Linked DNA regions of Homo sapiens: region 2 is linked to region 1. The links come from fine-mapping of genetic effects on gene expression. A gene starts in region 1. The other region holds a variant in brackets. All regions are shown on one strand. Distances are from middle to middle.

Region 1 (10,110 bases):
CAGGCTGGTCCCTTGCTGGCAGCCAGGCCCTTAAGGGTCCCAGGCCACTTAGGGGCCCAGTGAGCTCACAGGCCCCAAACCCTGGGGATCAGAGCTGTCTGCTGTCCAGGCATCCGGCTCCTGGGACAAGACCATCCACATCTGGAAGCCCACAACCAGCAGCCTGCTTATCCAACTGAAGGGCCATGTCACCTGGGTGAAGAGCATAGCCTTCTCTCCCGACGAGCTGTGGCTGGCCAGCGCCGGCTATTCCCGCATGGTAACCACCCCGGGCCCATCCTGCTCCTACCTACCCATCCTCACCCCACCAGGAGCCCTCAGCACTCACTCCAGAAATGCCCACATCCCCACTTGCCCTAGCTAGGAGGGGGCAAGGGCAGGACCTGGGTGCCAGCCTCTCTTCCTAATGGCCAGCACCAAGGTTAGGGCTGGCCCATTGGTAGTTGCATTGACATTTCCATGACCCAAATGGCATCAGGCAAAAGGGAACTCCTGCTCTGAAATTTCAAATACAGCCTCCAAACAAAACCTACACCAAGAGGTTCAGATGTTTTTTGGGCCGGGGGCGGTGGCTCACACCTGTAATCCCAGCACTTTGGGAGGTGGAGGTAGGTGAATCACCTGAGGTCAGGAGTTCAGGCGAAGACTCATCTCATATTTTGTCTGGGACTTTCCTGGAGGTGGCTTCAGATGCCACAGTGGCCTGGTGAGGCTTCCTGACATGCCCCCCTCCTTTTCCAGGTCAAAGTCTGGGACTGCAACACAGGAAAGTGCCTTGAGACCCTGAAGGTAAGGCACGGCGCTGTGGCACTGAGGAAGCTGTGGACAGCTTCTCCCAAGGCAGGACTTGCCTCGAGCCCCACCTTCTACTCTTAGCAGGGAGTCCTGGATGTGGCCCACACCTGTGCCTTCACCCCAGATGGGAAAATCTTAGTGTCTGGAGCTGCCGATCAGACTAGACGTCAAATATCCCGCACGTCCAAATCACCCAGGGACCCTCAAACCTAACACCAACCACCTTAGATGGTGCCGACCTCACCCGCTCCCCTCAGTGGCGCACAGGCATGCCGCTTCTCCCCACAGACGCAAAGTGACTGTGCTGGCATCCAGCAGATCCCCATGGCCAGGACTCTCCAGGCCCCACCAGAGCAGACAACTGTGGTGGGCAGGACGCTTGCTGGAACCCATCAGACACCTGGTCCCCAAAACCAGACCCACCCACCTCCACCCAATCAGTGGAAGTGCCAGGAAACAAAGCAGTCTCAGCCAGCTGTGCTTTATTGACAATGCGCCCCTCAGGCCTTGACCGCGTACTTCCGCAGCGGGTACAGCCGCTCCTTCCGCTGCTGCTTCTTGGTCTTCAGGTTCTCCTCGTGCTTGTTGAGCCGGCGGCGCATGGCACGTGTCTTCTTAGGCCGCAGGTCCAGGGGCTTGTACTTCTTGCCCTGGGAGACAGACGGCAGGGTGAATCCAAGGACCCAGGGCTGAGGAGCTACTGCAGCAGCTAAGGGGGCTGGGGAGGGCCATCCAGAGCCACTCAGGAGGAGGCTGCCACCATGGGACTGCCAGCAGGCCACACATGTCACTAACTCAATTAATCCCCCCAAATCTAAGGCTGGTGGGACCATCCTCATTTCATGTAAGTCTGCTGACCTACTGGGCTGAGTGTCCAAGTCTTGGCAAAGCTGTGGAAGAGCCGGGGCTTGCATCTCAGTCAAGTGACTCCCAACTCAGTGCTCCTTCCACTGCCCGATTCCCAGTCACGAGGACAGTCACATGACAACCTAGTACAGGGCACGCAGCACCCACCAAGCCCCGGGGGTAGTTACCATTACCTCGGCTCTGGTTAGCAAGAGCATGCTGGGGGCTGAGGCAGTACTCTGTCCATCTGTATGCAGGGCCCACCAGCTGCTGCCTGTATGAACGTCCAGCCTCAGAGGCCTGGCTGGCCAAGGCCACTTGCCCCACCTGCTTCCGGCTTTGGGGCCCCTGCCCACAGCTGTCACAGAGCCATCATCTGTCTTTCCATCCTTGGCTCCCACTCCTGCCCCACTTGTTCTCCAGCAGGGGGTTCTAGACCATGGCAGCTCTCACTGGTCTCTCCTGTGTTCTGCAAAGGTCCCCTGGGCCCCCTTCAGGACTGGGCCCTGTGCTGGGAGCTGGCTTGGCAAAGGATCTGACCCAGTCCCTGCTCAGGGGTCCCAGCCTAGTGGGGGAAGACTGAACAGGTAACAAGTGGCCCATGGTATGGGGGATTCTGAGGTCACAGGGCCCCAGGCCCCTGCAGGTGGGCAGAGGACTGCAGAAAGATCCTGGACAATGAGGGCCAGCCCTGGAGGGTACTTGGAAGCAGGAAAGTCTTTGTCCTCCCACATCCCTCACTCCTGCTGGCATCGGCTGGGCATTCGTCCTTTTCACATTGGCTAACCCCCTAGAGTTCTGCTGTCCAACAGAGCAGCCACTAGCCACACACGTAGCTGCTGACATTAAAGGTTTACTTTTGCCACACACGTGCTAGTGTCCCCTGAACAGCTAACATAGCCACACTATGGCCCTTCTCATTTTTTTGAGATGAGGCCTCACTATGTTGCCCAGGCTACACTTTAACTCCTGGGCTCAAGCCATCCTCCTGCCTCGGCCTCCCAGTAGCTGGGGTTATAGGCCTGTGGCACTTCATCAGCCATGGCTGCTTTTCCCTTGTGTCAAATCTTCAAGTTATTCAAACACAATTTGGGTAGTGATGTGGAACCATTTTGCAGATGAAATTAAAGACCCTCATCAGGTAACTTTAGGGGAGATTATCCTGGGTAATCCCAGAAGGCCCGATCCAATCAGCTGTAAGTCTTAAGCACAGGGCTGAGGCTCCCTCCAAGTACCCACTGGGAACAGCAGCTTCAACCTGAGCCCTGAGTCCCAGCCAGCCCCCACAATCACCTATGCCCATTCTTCAGAATACATTGGATGCATGTGCACACACCGTCTCCCCCTAGTTTTCTCTGCTTGAACCCCAATAAGATGAATGTTAAGGACAAGACCAGAAAATGGTTATCAAAATTCAAGACTAAGAGGGGGCCAGACACCTGTGCACACCTCCCAGAACACTAAAGCCGACCCTCCCCAAGGTAAGGTTTGGAACCAGGGCCCATCATGCCATTGACTGTGGGTGTCTAGGCCTCAGGGCCCTCATCTGAAAAATGAGCATGGCAGGTGCCTGGCAGGGACTGACACCCAGTGCCAGTAAGAGGCAGTGAAAACCTTCAACAGCCAGTCCTATCACTGCCCAAGCCACTCAACTGGGAAGGCTGGTTTCAAAAACTGAGTCTCCAGCCAGGACACCCCAAGCCCCAATGAATTCTTGACATCTGCAGCCTGAGGAAGTGGTCTGCAGAGCCACGTGCCAGTGCAAGACACTGGTAGAAGAGTGAGCCCAGCAACAAATTGGGAAGGCTAACCACTCTCAGCCCACGCACCAAGAAAAACCTCTTTACCATGTCCCCGGCCAGGGACGGCTAGCACTTGGCTTCCTGCAGCCAACCCTCCCTATGTCCAGGCAGACTCACCTTGTAGAATTTCCTGAGGTTTTCTTTCTGAGTCTGGTTAATAACTGTGAGAACACGGGCAATGGATTTCCGGACGACTCGGCTACAAAACAGAGATGTCAGTGAAGATAGGGAAGACACATAGCACTACCCAAGACTCAGGACTCACACATAGGGCAGCAATAGCTGCAGCCTCCCCCATCAACCCATCCATATTCACTCAGGAGGAAGGCGTTCTGGGAGTGAGGTCTGAGGAGGGAAGAGAGGGGCATGGGAGAGACAGCAGAGGCTTTATGAGGAAGTGCAGGCTGGATAAATGAGGCAGATCAGAAAAAGACCTTCAATCCCAGAACACGAATTTATCCTGAGGGCTAAGACCCAACCAATGCCAATTTCAATGAGCTGATGGGAAGGAATCATGCCACAAACCAGGCAATCAGGCTAGCTTAGGGAACTGCAGGAGAGAGAAACAAGACATTTGCAAAGTGGAGTCACTACAAGCCAGGAGACTGAAGCAAACAACGAGCCAGGGAGAAGTTATTTGTAGTCATGTCAGGATGAGGGAGTCACCTAGTAGACAGCTGGTCAACATGGTTTTTGAGGATTCAGTGTGCAACTGTGCTTGTCCAATCCTCCCACCCCTGCCTCTACTAAGGTTGTTTGGGGGCAAAGAGGGCAACCACCATTTTTTTTTTTTGGAGACAGGGTCTCACCTGTCAACCAGACTGAAGAGCAGTGGCCCCATCATAGCCTCCCAACTCCTGGGCTCAAGTGATCCTCCTGCCTCAGCCTCCAGAGTAGCTGGGACTACAGGCCTGTACCACCACACCCATCTAATTTTTTTTTGAGAAGTGGACTTTGTACCCAGGTTGATGAACTCCAAACCCATGTTCCTTTCACAAGTCTCCCGCACTCTTAGCCATGTAAAATAACTTACGCTGCCACTCCAGGGTGCAAGCCACCCACCTGCCAAGGGGGTTAAAAACTCAAGTGTTGGTGGGAAGCGGAAGGAAGGGGTCCGGGTAGGCTTTGAAGGCAGCATTAAGATGGGTCTCCGGGGATGCATTCCAGGCACAAGGACCGCAAGGTCAAGGCAGGTAAGAGGCTAAGCACACAACGGGTCTCCCATGCGCGCCAGGATGCACGGAGTGGGCATCTAAGCGGCCAGCTCCTTAAGCCAACTTTGAAATCCTCCGACGATCCCGATGCACACGTGCTCCCCACCCACGAGGGCTGTGATCCGGCCGCCTCACTTACATCTTAGAGAGCTTGGAGGCCGCACCGCCTGTCACTTTGGCGACGCGCAGCTGGGACAGCTCCACCTTCAGGTCGTCCAGCTGTTTCAGCAGCTCCTCCTTCTTCTTCCCGCGAAGATCTCGAGCCTTGATCTTGGCCTGCGCGCAAGAGAGAGTGTGCCTCAGCCAGGCCGCGGGGCCATATCCCCTTCACCTGCGTGGCCAGCCCCCAAAGGCGCGCGACTCGCCATCGACTACGAGTGCGCCGGAGCCCCAACCAGGGCTCAGGACAGTCTCCCTCGCCGGCCGTGCCTTGGGCAGAGTAACCCAGGCCCGGGCCGCGCGCCTCTCCCGGCGCCAAGCGAAGAGGCGGGTTGTGGTGGCGCCAGACCATTCTGCGCGGCGCCCCACAGGCCTAGGTGGCAGATAGAATCCGCGGGCTCAGCCCGCACCGCCTTCCCCAACCCCCGCGCCTCACAGCGCTCGGATGGCGCCCGATTCCGCAGCTCTCACCATTGCTGCACAAGCCGCCAACGCCGCCGCCCGCTCCGAGGGAAAGAGGAAGTAGGCGGGGCTGACCTCCGCAACTACTGCCGGGTGGCGGCGGGCGCGGCCAATGGCGCCGCAGCGGGGGAGCCCCGGCTCCGCCTCATCTCCCCCGCCCCCGAGGAACGCCGTGGTACTGCCCGCCCCGCCTGGTAGGGCCGGAGCCCCGCCTTGTAGTGCTCGCCTCATTCACGGCACCCCTGATAGCGAGGTCGGCGTCACGGTGTAGGCGCGCAGTTGGGGAAACCGAGGCCCAACGTGGGCGGCAGCTACCAGAGATGGCACACGGAGGACTCAAATTCGTCCATTCAGTCATTCGTTCATTCATTCCTTCGGGAAACCTTGCAGATCTCCCAATCTGGGCAACTCTGAGCTGGGCGCCAGTAGTCTGGGGGTGCTGACGGGAGGAGGGGCCAGAGTTTTCAAAGACGATTAACCGAGGCTCACGTCGCGGAGGAATTTAAAGCGCGAGATGGACGGGAGGGGCGGGCTCAGGCAGTTATAATCCAACTCCATAAAGGTTCTGGGGAGGCAGTATATGGAACTGCAAAGAGCATTTACACCTTTTTTTTTTTTTTTTTTTTTGAGACAGAGCTTCATTCTGTCGCCCAGGGTGCCAGGCTGGAGTGCAGTGTCGCGATCTCGGCTTACTGCAACCTCCGCCTCCCGGGTTCAGCGATTCTCCTGCCCCAGCCTCCCGAGTAGCTGAGTAGCTGGGATTACAGGCATGCACCACCACGCCTGGCTAATTTTTTGTATTTTTAGTAGAGACGGGGTTTCGCCATGTTGCCCAGGCTGATCTTGAACTCCTCAGCTCAGGTGATCCCCTCGCCTCGGCCTCCCAAAGTGCTGGGATTACAGGCGTGAGCCACCACGCCTGGCCCCAGCCTTTATTTATTTTTTTTATTTTTTAATTTTTTTTTTCAGACAGGGTCTCGCTCTGTCACCCTGGCTGGAAGGCATGGCGCGCTCTCCGCCCACCAAAACCTCCGCTTCCCGGGTTCAAGCAGCCCTCCCACCTCAGTCTCCCGAGTAGCTGAAACTACAGGCACAAGCCACCAGGCCTGGCTAATTTGTTTATTTTTTGTAGAGCTGTTGCCCAGGGTGGTCTCCTGGGCTCAAGCAATCCGCCCTCCTCGGCCTCCCAGAGTGCCTAGGATTACAGGGGTTAGCCACCTCGCCTGGCCATACAGCCTTTTTTATTTTTATTTTATTTTTTATATATTTTTTGAGATGGAGTCTGGCTCTGTCGCCTAGGCTGGAGTGCAGTGGCGCGATCTCGGCTCACTGCAACCTCCACCTCCCGGGTTCAAGAGATTCTCCTGCCTTGGCCTCCCCAGTAACTGGGACTACAGGTGTGTGCCACTACACCCAGCTAAATTTTTGTATTTTTAGTAGAGACAAGGTTTAGCCAGGCTGGTCTCAAACCCCTGACCTCAAGTGATCCACCCGCCTCAGCCTCCCAAAATACTGGGATTACAGGTGTGAGCCACTGCGCCCGGCTAGTACAGCCTTTTTTAAAGTGAACCTGACCAGGTTTCAAATTCTTGCTCTGCTGCCAAGGTAGTAGTTGAGACTCTTGGGAAATCTCTTCCCCTTTCTTGAGTCTCAGTTTGCTCACATGTGAAATGAGGCATTTATGAGAATTAGAGGAGATATCTGTAAAGCTGTTAACCCGAAATCTGACGCATAACAATGGCTCAAAATATCATTGGTGTTCATGTTCCCAGAGGAAGGAACACTTCAGTAGAGCCCGGAAAGTGAAACGGGAATTCACAAGGCAGGGCATGTTTAGGCTTTCTGATTAATGTCTGCCAACCAGTAGGCATTAATCAGCACTCCAGTGCCACTCCCTTGCCCTTAATAAAGACATGCCACCTCTTAGAGTTATGGTTGAAGCCAGATTGTCCTCTTGTTACTACCAGCTGTAACCACCCACAAGGAGACTTCTCCCATCTCCTATGAGTAGCAACCTCTGTGCAATCCTTTCCTTAGCCCCAAACAGGCTGAAATAAAATGATGCATTTATGTGTCTATTTCCACAGCCAACCTAGAAGTTCTCTGGGGACAGAACCTTGGCGGACAACTGAATTAATTGTTCTAGTCTCCAGGCCCAGTACATGGATGCTTGTTGGATGAATTAATGAACCTTGACCCACACCAAGGTGAGGAAGGCTTTCAGGAGGTGGAGGGATATGGGGAAAAAAGAGAGTAGAGAGAGGGCAATCCCGGCATGGCTTAGACTTTTTTTTTTTTTTTTTGAAATGGAGTCTTGCTGTGTCACCCAGGCTGGAGTGCAGTGGCACAATTTCAGCTCACTGTAACCTCCACCTCCCAGGTTCAAGCGATCCTTGTGCCTCAGCCTCCTGAATAGCTGGGATTACATAGGTGCGTGCCACCATGCCCGGCTAATCTTTGTATTTTTGTTTTTTTCCAAAATGGAGTCTTGCTCTATTGCCCAAGCTGGAGTGCAGGGGCACAATCTCGGCTCTCACTGCAACCTCTGCCTCCCAGGTTCAAGCGATTCTCCTGCCTCAGCCTCCCGAGGAACTGGGAATACAGGCATGCACCACCAAGCCAAGCTAATTTTTGTTTTTTTAGTAGAGACGGGGTTTCACCATATTTCACCTGGCCACCATGTTGGCCAGGCTGGTATTGAACTCTTAACCTTGTGATCCGCCTGCCTTGGCCTCCCAAAGTGCTGGGATTACAGGTGTGAGCTGCCGCGCCTGGCCCATCTTTGTATTTTTTGTAGGGACGGGGTTTCGCCAGGGTGGTCTCAAACTCCTGACCTCAAGAGATCCGCCTGCCTCAGCCTCCCAAAGTGCTGCGATTACAGGCATGAGCCACGGCGCAGTGCGCCTGGACCTTTTTTTTTTTTTGAGACTGAGTTTCATTCTTGTTGCCCAGGCTGGAGTGCAATGGCACAATCTCGGCTCACTGCAACCTCTGCCTTCTGGGTCCAAAGGATTCTTCTGCCTCAGCCTCCCAGCCTGCCTACAGCTACTGTAATCCAAGTAGCTGGGATTACAGGTGCCGCCATGATGCCTGGCTAATTTTTATATTTTTAGTAGAGACGGCATTTCACCACGTTGGCCAGGCTGGTCTCAAACTCCTGACCTCAGGTGATCCACCTGTCTCGGCCTCCCAAAGTGTTGGGATTACAGGTGTGAACCACTGTACCTGGCCGGCATAGCTTAGTCTTAAATGAAAGTCTAGGCCGGGCGTGGTGGCTCACGTGGTGCACGCCTGTAATCCCAGCTACTCTGGAGGCTGAAGCAAGAGAATCGCTTGAACCCAGAGGCAGAGGTTGCAGTGAGCCGAGATCGGGCCATTGCACTCCAGCCTGGGTGACAAGAGGGAAACTCTGTCTAAAAAAAAAAAAAAAAAAAAAGGAAAGTCTAATGGTGCACAGTGCCTTTGCTGTTATATTTTTAAATGCTTAGAGTTAATGACTCTGCACATCTTTTTCGAACCTGAAGTCATTTGTGACTCTCTCTTACACGCCACATCTAGTCAACCAGTAAATTCCAGGTACTCTACCTTCAAAATTTACCCAACTTAAGGCCGGGTGAGGTGGCTCACGTCTGTAATCCTAGCACTTTGGGAGGCCAAGGCAGGTGGATCACCTGAGGTCAGGAGTTCGAGACCAGCCTGGCCAACATGGTGAAACCGTGTCTCTACTAAAAATACAAAAAAAATTAGCCGGGCATGGTGGCGGGTGCCTATAATCACAGCTATTCGGGAGGCTGAGGCAGGAGAATTGCTTCAACCCAGGGGGCAGAGGTTGCAGTGAGCCAAGATTGCGCCACTTCACTCAAGCCTGGGCGAAAGAGCAAAACTCCATCTCAAAAAAACAAAAAACAAAAAAAACAAAATTGGGACTGGGCGTGGTGGCTCACACCTGTAATCCCAGCACTTTGGGAGGCCAAGGCGGGCAGATCATGAGGTCACGAGTTCGAGACCAGCCTGACCAACATGGTGAAAACCTGTCTCTACTAAAAATATAAAAATTAGCCAGGCGTGGTGGTGTGCACCTGTACTCCCAGCTACTTGGGAGGCTGAGGCAGGAGAATCACTTGAACCCTGGAGGCGGAGGTTGCAGTGAGCTGAGGTTGGGCCACTGCACTCTAGCCTAGGCGACACAGTGAGACTCCCTCTTAAAAAAACAAAAAAACAGGTCAGGCGCAGTGGCTCACGTCTGTAATCCCAGCACTTTAGGAAGCCGACGCAGGTGGATCACCTGAGGTCAGGAGTTTGAAACCAGCCTGGCCCACATGGTGAAACCCTGTCTCTACTAAAAATACAAAAATTAGCCAGGTGTGGTGGCAGGTGCCGGTAATCCCAGCTACTCCAGAGGCTGAGGCAGGAGAATCACCTGAACCCTGGAGGTGGAGGGTGCAGTGAGCTGAGACTGTGCCACTGCACTCCAGCCTGGGCAACAGAGTGAGGCTCCATCTCAAAAAAAATGAATAAAATAAAACAAAATAAGAAATTGGTGGGGCACGGTGGCTCATGCCTGTAATCCCAGCACTTTGGGAGGCCGAGGTGGGCAGATCACCTGAGGTCAGGAGTTCAACACTAGGCCAGCCAACATGGAGAAACCCCGTTTCTACTAAAAATACAAAATTAGCCAGGCATGGTGGCGCATGCCTGTAATCCCAGCTACTCGGGAGGCTGAGGCAGAATTGCTTGAACCCGGGAGGCAGAGGTTGCGGTGAACTGAGATAGCCCCATTGCAGTCCAGCCTGGGCAATAAGAGCAAAACTCCGTCTCAAAAAAATTAAAAA
Region 2 (10,110 bases), 50 kb after region 1:
ACTAAAAATATAAAAAAATTAGCTGGGCGTGATGCTGGACACCTGTAATCCCAGCTACTCGGCAGGCTGAAGCAGGAGAATCGCTTGAACCCGAGAGGTGGAGGTTGCAGTGAGCCGAGATTGTGCCATTGCACTCCAGCCTGGGTGACAAGAGCAAAACTCTGTCTCAAAAGAAAAAAAAGATACCATCACAGTATCAACACAAACTCTAAAGTTTCTAGGAATTAGCAACTTAGGCAAGAAAATAAGACATCTATTGAGAAAAATGTAAAATTTTAATAAAACACACAGAAAATAATCTGAATAAATGGAATATATTTACATTGTTAGAAGGAATAATTAATATTATAAAATGGACAATTTTTCCCAATTAGCCTATACATTTAATGCAATCCCAATAAAAATTCAAGTTGAATTTTTTAGTAACTCAAAAACTTAAAAATTTTAAAGGCCCATAAATAGTTAAAGTCAACCTTTGAAAAAAAAAGAGAATTTGTCTTATTGGGTGTTGAGATATAGTACAGATATCACTATAGTAATAAAAACATTGTAGTGTTTACACAAGAGCAGACAATCAGACCAATGGACAGAGAATGCAGAGACAAACCCATGTGCAGACAGAAACAATACGTGATAAAGTTAGCAAGAGGAATCAATTCAGAAAGGACAGACTGTTTAGTAAATGATTTTGAGAAATATGCAGAATTTCTCCATATTTAGATCCCTACCTAAGACCATACAGAAAGACAGTTTGTAAGTGAATTAGAGATTTATTATGTGAAGGAAAAATTATAAAGTTAATAGGGAAAAAACAGTAGATCTCTGTGACTTAGGAACAGGAATAGATTTTCTAAATGGAACTTCAAACTCCACAGCAAAAATGTGATGAATCTGGTAACACTGAACTTAAGAAAGTCTATTCAACAAAGGATACATGGACAAAGTTAACAGAATGACTCAGGACTGAAACTGATAAAGCATTAGGAACAAGAATATACAATGAAATCCTACAAACCAAATAAGAAAAGACTGAAACCCCCAAAGAAAATAAGGAAAGGATATGAATGGGCAATTCCAAAAGCAGAAACCCCCAGGAATTAACAGGCACATGAAGACAAGGCCAAACTCATTAATCACCATAGCAATGCAAATTAAAGCAATGAAATACCACTCCACACTCAGTAAACTGGCAAAAATTGTAAAGGCTTGGAAATGCCAATGCTGGAAAAGTCAGAAAGGCATATATAGGAACGCTCATGCATGCTGGAGGAGGAGAGCCAGGTGCAGGCTTGCTGGGAACAATCTTCTCCTATAGTACTTAGTCTCTTTAGGTTTTATGCATGATCTGAGGTGGCAGGAAGAAGGAAGCAATCTGGATGTCTACCACATAGATAACTACAAAGTACAATGAAGTGGGTACAGACAGAAGTTGAGGCAGCTAAAAGTAATAGAGAAAACATACCCATAGCTGCATCATTTACAGAAATTAAAAACCCAGTGCTACATATTTTAAAACAACCCAACAAAAAGAGCATCTATATGAACCACAACGGAATGGTATCCTATGGGAGGGAGGCCAATGGGGATAAAAGGGTATAAATAAACATATAACTCAATCATAGTAATGTGACAAGGATGAAGAAAATGACTAACTCATCCCTGTATAGGTAAGATCCAAAAATAATCCCTTCTAGTGAAAAAACTCTGACCAAGAAGATTCTCAGTCACACCATGTTGCCATTCAGCCAGGTTACCACCCAAACTTAGGAAACACCAGGAGTAAGGTCAGTACCCGAGTCTCCAGGGTGTTAATGGCCTTAGCCTGGCTGCTTCTGGCTGCCAAGAGCTGTTGTCTGGTATCCTCCAAATTCTGCTCAGCAAGTGTTTTCTGTAAGTTGAAAGAAGAGTAAAAGAAGACTATCATTCCTCAGTTGAATAAATATTTACAGATTATCTACAACATATTGTGACTTGTGCTAGGCACAAGAGACATGAATACATTTTTAATAATTCAGCTAATTGAGAAATAATTCACATATCATAAAGTACACACAGATAAATTTGAAATAGTCCCTTGACCTTGAGGCTGGAACAAAAGACTAATAAAAAATTACACAATAGAGTACAGTAAGTGTCCACAAAGAGGAAGAAGCACAGGGTGGGAGATACTCCCTGCCACAGGGCAGGTAGGCAGCTTTAGAACTCACAAAGTCGTTAGGGTTCAGGGAGCCTCCCAGGCAGGGGGATGACCAACGGCTATGTGAACAGCCTGCTACGTTGAGGGAACTACTACTCCTCAGAAGCCAAAATGATGATGGGTTTAGGTCAAAAAACAAGACTAGAAAGATAGGCAAAAGGGCCAGCTCATGAGAAGCTTTTGAATGTTGCAAAAAGGAGTTAGAACTTGATTCTGTAAGCAACATTTTTCAAAGTAGAAATTCTAGGCCGGGTGTGGTGGCTCACACCTGTAATCCCAGAACTTTGGGAGGCTGAGGCAGGCAGATCACTTTAGGTCAGGAGTTCGAGACCAGCCTGGCTAACGTGGTGAAATCCCATCTCTACTAAAAATATTTTAAAAATTAGCTGGATGTGGTGGTGGGTACCTGTAATCCCAGCTACTTGGGAGGTTGAGGCAGGAGAATTACTTGAACCCAGGAAGCGGAGTTGCAGTGAGCAGAGATTGTACCACTGAACTCCAGCCTGGGTGACAGAGTGAGACTCTGTCTTAAAAAAAAAAATGGGGCTGGGAGCGGTGGTTCACGCCTGTAATCCCAGCACTTTGGGAAGCCGACGTGGACAGATCACGAGGTCAGAAGTTCGAGACCAGCCTGACCAACATGGTGAAGCCCTGTCTCTACTAAAAATACAAAAAAATTAGCTGGATGTGGTGGTGTGCACCTGTAGTCCCAGCTACTCGGGATGCTGAGGCAGGAAAATCACTTGAACCCCGGGAAGCAGAGGTTGCAGTGAGCCGAGATCACGCCACTGCACTCTAGCCTGGGCAACAGAGTGAGACTCCGTCTCAAAAAAAAAAAAAAAAAAAAGAAATGTAGACTTAGCTGAGATAGCTGTTACTGAGATAGTTGTTAATCTCAGCTAGTTGCACAGATTTGAGGCCTTGCTCCAAGCCTAAGGAAATCAGAATTTCTGAGGGTAGGGCCAGAGATATATACTTTATTTACTTATTTATTATTTTTGAGATGGAATTTCACTCTTGTCGCTCAGGCTGGAAAGTAGTGGTGCGATCTTGGCTCACTGCAACCTCCGCCTCCTGGGTTCAAGTGATTCTCTTGCTTCAGCCTCCTGAGTAGCTGGAATTACAGGCACCCGCCACCATGCCCAGCTAATTTATTTATTTATTTATTTTTTTGAGACAGAGTCTCGCTCTGTCACCAGGCAGGAGTGCAGTGGCATGATCTCAGCTCACTGCAACCTCCCAGGTTCAAGCAATTCTCCTCCCTCAGCCTCCGGAGTAGCTTGGGACTACAGGCATGTGCCACCACGCCCAGCTAATTTTTGTATTTTTAGTAGAGACGGGCTTTCACCATGTTGGCCAGGATGGTCTCGATCTCCTGATCTTGTGATCCGCCCGCCTCGGCCTCCCAAAGTGCTGGGATTATAGGTGTGAGCCACCGCGCCTGGCCTAATTTTTGTATTTTTAATAGAGGCGGGGTTTTGCCATGTTGGCCAGGCTGGTCTTGAACTCCTGACCTCAGGTGATCTGCCCGCCTCGGCTACCCAAAGTGCTGGGATTACAGGCGTGAGCCACCACGCCTGGCCTAGAGATATATACTTTAAACAAACTTCCCAAGTAATTTCTATGCACATTAAACATTATAATAATGATGATGGCACAATAATAATATTGATCATGTTTACAGCTGACATACATTGAGACCCTACTCTGTTCCGGTTATCATTCTAAGCACTTCACATATTGTAACTTATTTAACCCTAACAACAATTCTGAGTTTAATAGTATAATAAAACCAATTTTATTGGGGAGGAAGCAAACACAAAGAGATTAAATTACTTGCTCTAAGTCAGGGGTCCCCAACCCTTGGGCCACAGACCTTGCAGTCTGTTAGGAACCAGGCCGCACAGCAGGAGGTGAGTGGTGAGTAAGCACTACCACCTAAGATCTGCCTCCAGTCACATCAGTGGTGGTGTTAGATTTTCATAGGAGCATGAACCCTATTGTGAACTGTGCAAGTGAGGGATCCAGGTTGCACACTCCTTATGAGAATCTAGGGACGATGATGATCTGAGGTGGAACAGTTTTATTCTGAAACCACCCCCTCACCCGACCCAACCTGACCCCATCTGTGGAAAAACTGTCTTCCACGAAACCAGTCCCTGGTGCCAAAACGGTTGGGAACTGCTGCTCCAAGTCAAAGCTGGTAAGCAGAAGAGGCAAAATGCAAGCATGGACATTCTGATTCTAGAAATCAATTTATTCCCTAGAACCCACATTACACTTCCTGTAGACTGTTGAAGGGAATTGTAGAAGATGTTTAAGAGAGTGATATGGTCACCAGTGCTGATTAGGAGGATCAGTTTGGCAGTGAGCGTGGGAGACTGTGTCAGAGAGTGAAGGAAGAGAGACTGATGCTGGGTAGGCCAATCTGGAGACTTCTAACATAGACTAGGCTAGATTTGCTGGAAACCCTGAAGTACAACCAGTGGCACTGGAGATGGAGGTATTTAGTTGAAACTGACTGAAGAAAGAAAGGGAGGGTCTAATCTAGGAGCCTCATGACCTGGGCTTTGTCACCTTTGTCACAGTGTGGCCAATCACTGGAACAGAAAGAGAGGGAAGAGCAGAATGTGTGCAGACAATGAGCTCAGCCTGATGAGAAAGTTCCCTTGCACCACTGGGGAAGAGGCCAGTCTGCACAACAGCCTCCCTTGGGAAGGAGAGAATGCTGCCCAAGGTAATTCTTGCTTTTGCCAAGGGGCAGATGTAGCTATTTACCTTGGCCACTGCAGAGTACAAAATGGTGGGGAAGAGGG[C/T]AGTGCAGAAAGACAAGGCAGCCCAAGTGGCGGAAATCACTAGGTGTGGTTTATTGGTGATGAGATGCTATCCGTTTGTATGTATCTCTGAATACAGCTCTCCCTTTCCCTGAGAAAAGCATGTCACCCACAGGGGACATAAGGCTCTTTCTGATGTAAGCAGGACAAGCCAAAGTTGGAGACACTTCTTTTGTTACCATGCTGTTTGCTGGCCCTACAGCTCTGAAACTCTAGGAATTGTGAAGTCACCAGAATCAACCCTGCCTTTCCAACACCAGCCAGCCCAAAGAGAACAGAAGTTACCTCTTTCAGGAGTTCTTGCAAGTGTTCTTCTCCTGATAAGTTCTGTTCTAGTCTCTTCTCCAAGGATGCAACCTTCTCTTGCAAATGTGTGATAACGTCTTCTTTCTCTTGAGTTTCAGCAGTGACCTGCAGGTGAAAGCAGAGATCACTCTATACTAGAAGCCCTCTCTTCCTTCCTTCCTGCTTTCTTTTGGGCCATCACATTTTCCTGCAACTCTGTCCTCAACTGTATCCTAGAAGAACAAACAGCTAAGAGATCTTCCTGAAAATGGGATACAGAAAATGCAAGATTAGAACCTGGCAAAACTCAGGGATCCAGCTCAGACCTAGTGCAGCAAGAAGCAAACACTCTTCCCAATTAAACAACTGACAGTCTGGAACAAAGGCATTACCTACGTGGTAGAGGCAGCAGAACTAATCCCACCAAGAAGCACTCAGCCTGCAATGACCTATGGAACAATGCTCCTGAAAGCTGAGGGGCTGGATAAAGCAGTAACAGTGCTGATGTAGTGGCTTTAAGGCTAAAGAGAGAACTTCTGAAATGATGAGATTCACCTGGCTCACAGGACAGGGACCACAGCAGAGCTGCCATGCTTCTCATACCTTGGCTTTAGACCAACAGCTGCCCGTTTTATTTCAATCTATTATTTTTGGTTTTTTGAGACGGAGTGTCGCTCTGTTGCCTTGGCTGGAGTACAGTGGCGCGATCTCGGCTCACTGCAACATCCACCTCCTGGGTTTACGCCATTCTCCTGCCTCAGCCTCCCGAGTAGCTGGGACTACAGGCGCCCACCACCACACCCGGCTAATTTTTTGTATTTTTAGTAGAGACGGGGTTTCACCATATTGGCCAGGATGGTCTCAATCTCCTGTCCTCATGATCCACTAGCCTCGGCCTCCCAAAGTGCTAGGATTACAGGCGTAAGCCACTGTGCCTGGCCAGTCTATCTCTTTAGCTATGATGGTAGTGGTGGTAGCAACAGGTTGGGACTAACTTGGTTCCTTTTACTGCTACTAATCTTCAACTGCTGCTTGTATTAGTCCATTCTCACACTGCTATAAAGAATACCTGAGACTGAGTAATTTATAAAGGAAAGAGATTTAATTGACTCACAGTTCCACATGGCTGGGAGGCCTCAGGAAACTTACAAGCATGGCAGAAGGAGAAGGGGAAGCAAGGTACATCTTACACGGTGGCAGGATAGAGCAAGCGAGCGAGGGGGGAAGTGCCATACTGTAAAACCATCAGCTCTCATGAGAACTCACTCACTATCACAAGAACAGCAAAGGAGAAATCTGCCTCCATGATCCGATCACCTCCCACCAGGTCCCTCCCTTGACATGTGGGCATTACAATTTGAGATGAGACACGGAGCCTAACCATATCACTGCTCAATGTCAAAGCAGAGGATCCAGGAAGCTTTGAATACATGAGTTCTTACATCCCCACTGAGGATGCCCATTCTTCCCCAGAAAAGGTTGTAGGGCAACAAAATCTCACTGTGAAGACTTGTACCTCTTTACATGTACTCTGTTCCCTCAAATTCCCTTATCTTACACTTCCGTTGCTCCATTTCAAGCCATAAACTTTCATGTTCAGTTGTAACTTGGCCGATCTCTCCTCAGGATAAGATGCAGCAACCAGGGTGTATGGTTTTGGGAAGAAGTATTTGCCATTCTGAATTCTCACAGGTGGACAACAGAGATAGTGGAGGGGAAGTCTGAAGACTAGATTTATGACCCCACAATTCAATAAACTTTCATCAAGCCTGAACTCTATCTGTTGTTTTCTGAGGATACAATCAACATTAATTCCAGCATGGAGGCTGGTGGTGGAGACAGACACACACCTAATTACAAAACAACTGTGCTTCAACAGAGGGACACACACCGTGCTATGAGATATGAGATGCAAGAGGGATTAACTGGGAGAATCAGATCAGGCCTCCTGAATGGGCAAGTCCAGGTGAAAGAGGGTGGAAGAGGAACAATCATTCTGCATAAAGGGCAGCACATACAAAGAGGTAACAGACAAGTCCTGCAAGGCTAGAGGCTGGGTGAGGAGGAAAGAACAGCTGAACACAACTCTCAGGTCTGTGGCTCAGACACCTGGGCAAATGGTAACATTATGCAAGGTGGATAACACAGGAAAGTGAGTGAGTGTGATAGGAAAAAAAAAGCCAGTTTTGGCCATGTTGACCCATCTTTATGGGTCTCTTATTACTAATGTTAATACTAGCAATAGTTATAACTGTAATATAGCAGAAGCAGCTATAACAAGATTGCTGCAGCAATCTTGAAAAAGAATAACTGTAGGCTGGGCGTGGTGGCTCACGCCTGTAATCCCAGCACTTTGGGAAGCTGAGGTGGGCAGATCACGAGGTCAGGAGATCGAGACCATCCTGGCTAACACGGTGAAACCCCATCTCTACTAAAAATACAAAAACAAAATTAGCCGGACGTGGTGGCAGGCGCCTGTAGTCCCAGCTACTCAGGAGGCTGAGGCGGGAGAACGGCGTGAACCTGGGAGGCGGAGCTTGCAGTGAGCCAAGATCGCGCCACTGCACTCCAGCCTGAGCGAGGAGCGACACTCCGTCTCAAAGAAAAAAAAAAAGGAAAGAAAAAGAGTAACTGTTGATGTAAGAGTTGGAGAACATTACCTGATTTCAACTCTAAAGTGACAATGACCAAGACAGTGTGGTAATAGCGTAAAGACAGACATATAGGGTCAAGGGAACGCTGCAAGCACTTCCTATTATGTCTAGTCCTTACAAATGCTCTTTATCACATCCATTTACAAGGAAACTGAAGCTTAGGGACTAGCCCAAAGGCATATACCTATTAGCGATAGATGAAGAATTTAAATCCAGGTCTTCTGGATCCAAAGTCTGCATTTGTTCCCCTACACATCAATCTGAATTCAAGAGGTATAGATGACCCATTCCAGTTAAAACCAAAACAACACATCTTACACAGGTCACTGTGTTAGGCAAAGTTAGGGACAGAAAAAGAATCAGTGGCCAAGTTCCACTTATGCCTCTTGTGCAACATATTGATATGCGATCTCCTTCTCCAGGCTGGCTGATTTACTTCAGGCCCTCTACACCTCATGTGGACTACGGGAACAGTTACCAAGCCATACTCCCTGACATCAAACCTGCCCCTTTCCTAATGATCACCCTCTTCACCTACTCCCTCCCGAGTCTGGGTCTCACAGTTATAGTCCCAGAATATGGACTGCATCAATTCTGGGTGGTGGTCACTTGATTCAGACAGACATGAGTCTGAATCCTGGCTCTGTCATTGACTCCAGCTGTACGGTCTTGACAAATCATTTAGCCTTTGATGTCAGATGCCCATTACTATCACCTGTAAAATAGGAAAACACTGTCTAACCAAAGGGTAGTTGTGAGGACTCGATGAGTCCCTATCTGTAAAGCTCTTGAATACTGAGCTCAGGGTAAATGCTCAGCTATTCTTGTTAAATATTCACTAATGATTATTTATGAAATTTCATGTTCACTATTTAGTCTATACAACTGGCCCTGCATACCTTCCCAGCCTCATCTAGCACCGTTTCCACTTCCTTTCTAAGCGTTAACCACTTGTCTATCCTTTTGGTTCTCCCAACATGCCTTTTTTTCCTTCATTATAAATGTATTTATGGTGCTGAGACCAGTGGCTTATGTTTGTAATCCCAGCACTGTGAGAGGCCGAGGCAGGAGGCTTGCTTAAAGCCAGGAGATCAAAACCAGCCCAGGTAACACAGGGAGATCTTTTCTCTACAAAAGTAAAAAAATTGAAAACAAAAAAGGTTGAGGTTGCAGTGAGCCAACATCGCGCCACTGCACTCCAGCCTGGGCATCAAGAGCAAAACTCTGTCTCAAAAATAAATAAATAGATAGATAAAATAAAATAAATGGCAGGGCGTGGTGGCTCACGTGTGTAATCCTAGCACTTTGGGAGTCCGAGGCAGGCAGATCAAGAGGTCAGGAGTTCAAGACCAGCCTGACCAATATGGTGAAACCCTGTCTCTTCTAAAAATACAAAAATTAGCTGGGCATGGTGGCATGTGCCTATAGTCCCAGCTACTCGGGATGCTGAGGCAGGAGAATCACTTGAACCTGGGAGGTGGAGGCTGCAGTGAGCCAAGATCACACCACTGCACTCCAGCCTGGGCAACAGAGCAAGACTGTATCTCTAAATAAATAAATAAATAAATAAATAAATACATAAATATACTTATTTAAGTAAAAAAAAAAAAGTAAGGTGAATTCCATGAAAATATTGTGTTAAGTACAATACAGGTTAGGAAGAACATAAATTGGGAAGTTGAAAGATAATGGCTACAGTTGAGGAACTGCTATCCAGTAGAGTAAAAAATGTGTAATTCTGAACACTGTGGGTTAAATAAAAACAAAATGAAAAGAATTAAAGTAAAATTTTGTTTCCAAACTGACAGACATCTGGTAAGAATAAACTAGAAAAAAATAGAAAATGCATAAATACTACTATGAATGAAGATAGGGGAGCAACTAAAAAAAGAATATAAGAAATACAATGCCAAAACATTAAACTTATAGCAAATGAACAATTATGTAGAAAAATATAAATTAACAAAACTTAGGAAGAAATACATAAACTTAGAATTACCATTAAGGAAATCTATTCAGTAATTAAAAATCTTCACAAGCCAGGCAAAGTGGCTCATGCCTGTAATCCCAGGACTTTGGGAGGCTGAGGCAGGAGGATTGCTTGTGTCCTGGAATTCAAAACTAGCCTGGGCAACATAGT

Evidence for each region. PIP is the estimated chance that this variant, and not a neighbour inherited with it, causes the effect.
Region 2: its variant is the best candidate, but not a certain one, in a credible set for the expression of ARPC5L in lung (TOPMed, PIP 0.70).

The regions. Positions count from the first base shown.
Region 1 is chr9:124,856,623-124,866,732 of GRCh38, forward strand. It overlaps ARPC5L (actin related protein 2/3 complex subunit 5 like), which reads left to right and starts at 5,508. Exons shown (of 6, transcript NM_030978.3): 1 at 5,508-5,776; 2 at 7,366-7,485. It overlaps WDR38 (WD repeat domain 38), which reads left to right. Exons shown (of 9, transcript NM_001045476.3): 7 at 110-259; 8 at 742-789; 9 at 880-1,256. The coding sequence ends at 1,008. RPL35 (ribosomal protein L35) reads right to left here and starts at 5,335. Exons shown (of 4, transcript NM_007209.4): 1 at 5,288-5,335; 2 at 4,797-4,933; 3 at 3,561-3,642; 4 at 1,261-1,445. The coding sequence starts at 5,290. The coding sequence ends at 1,296. RefSeq lists silencers at 1,923-2,205, 5,245-5,514 and enhancers at 2,846-3,347, 3,348-3,847, 4,836-5,459, 4,895-4,944, 4,985-5,094 and 1 more.
Region 2 is chr9:124,906,585-124,916,694 of GRCh38, forward strand. GOLGA1 (golgin A1) reads right to left here. Exons shown (of 23, transcript NM_002077.4): 11 at 5,317-5,442; 12 at 1,793-1,888. Among named protein-coding and RNA genes, the nearest start is that of GOLGA1, 29 kb to the right of the region's middle. The variant C/T (reference allele first, on the strand shown) is at 5,014.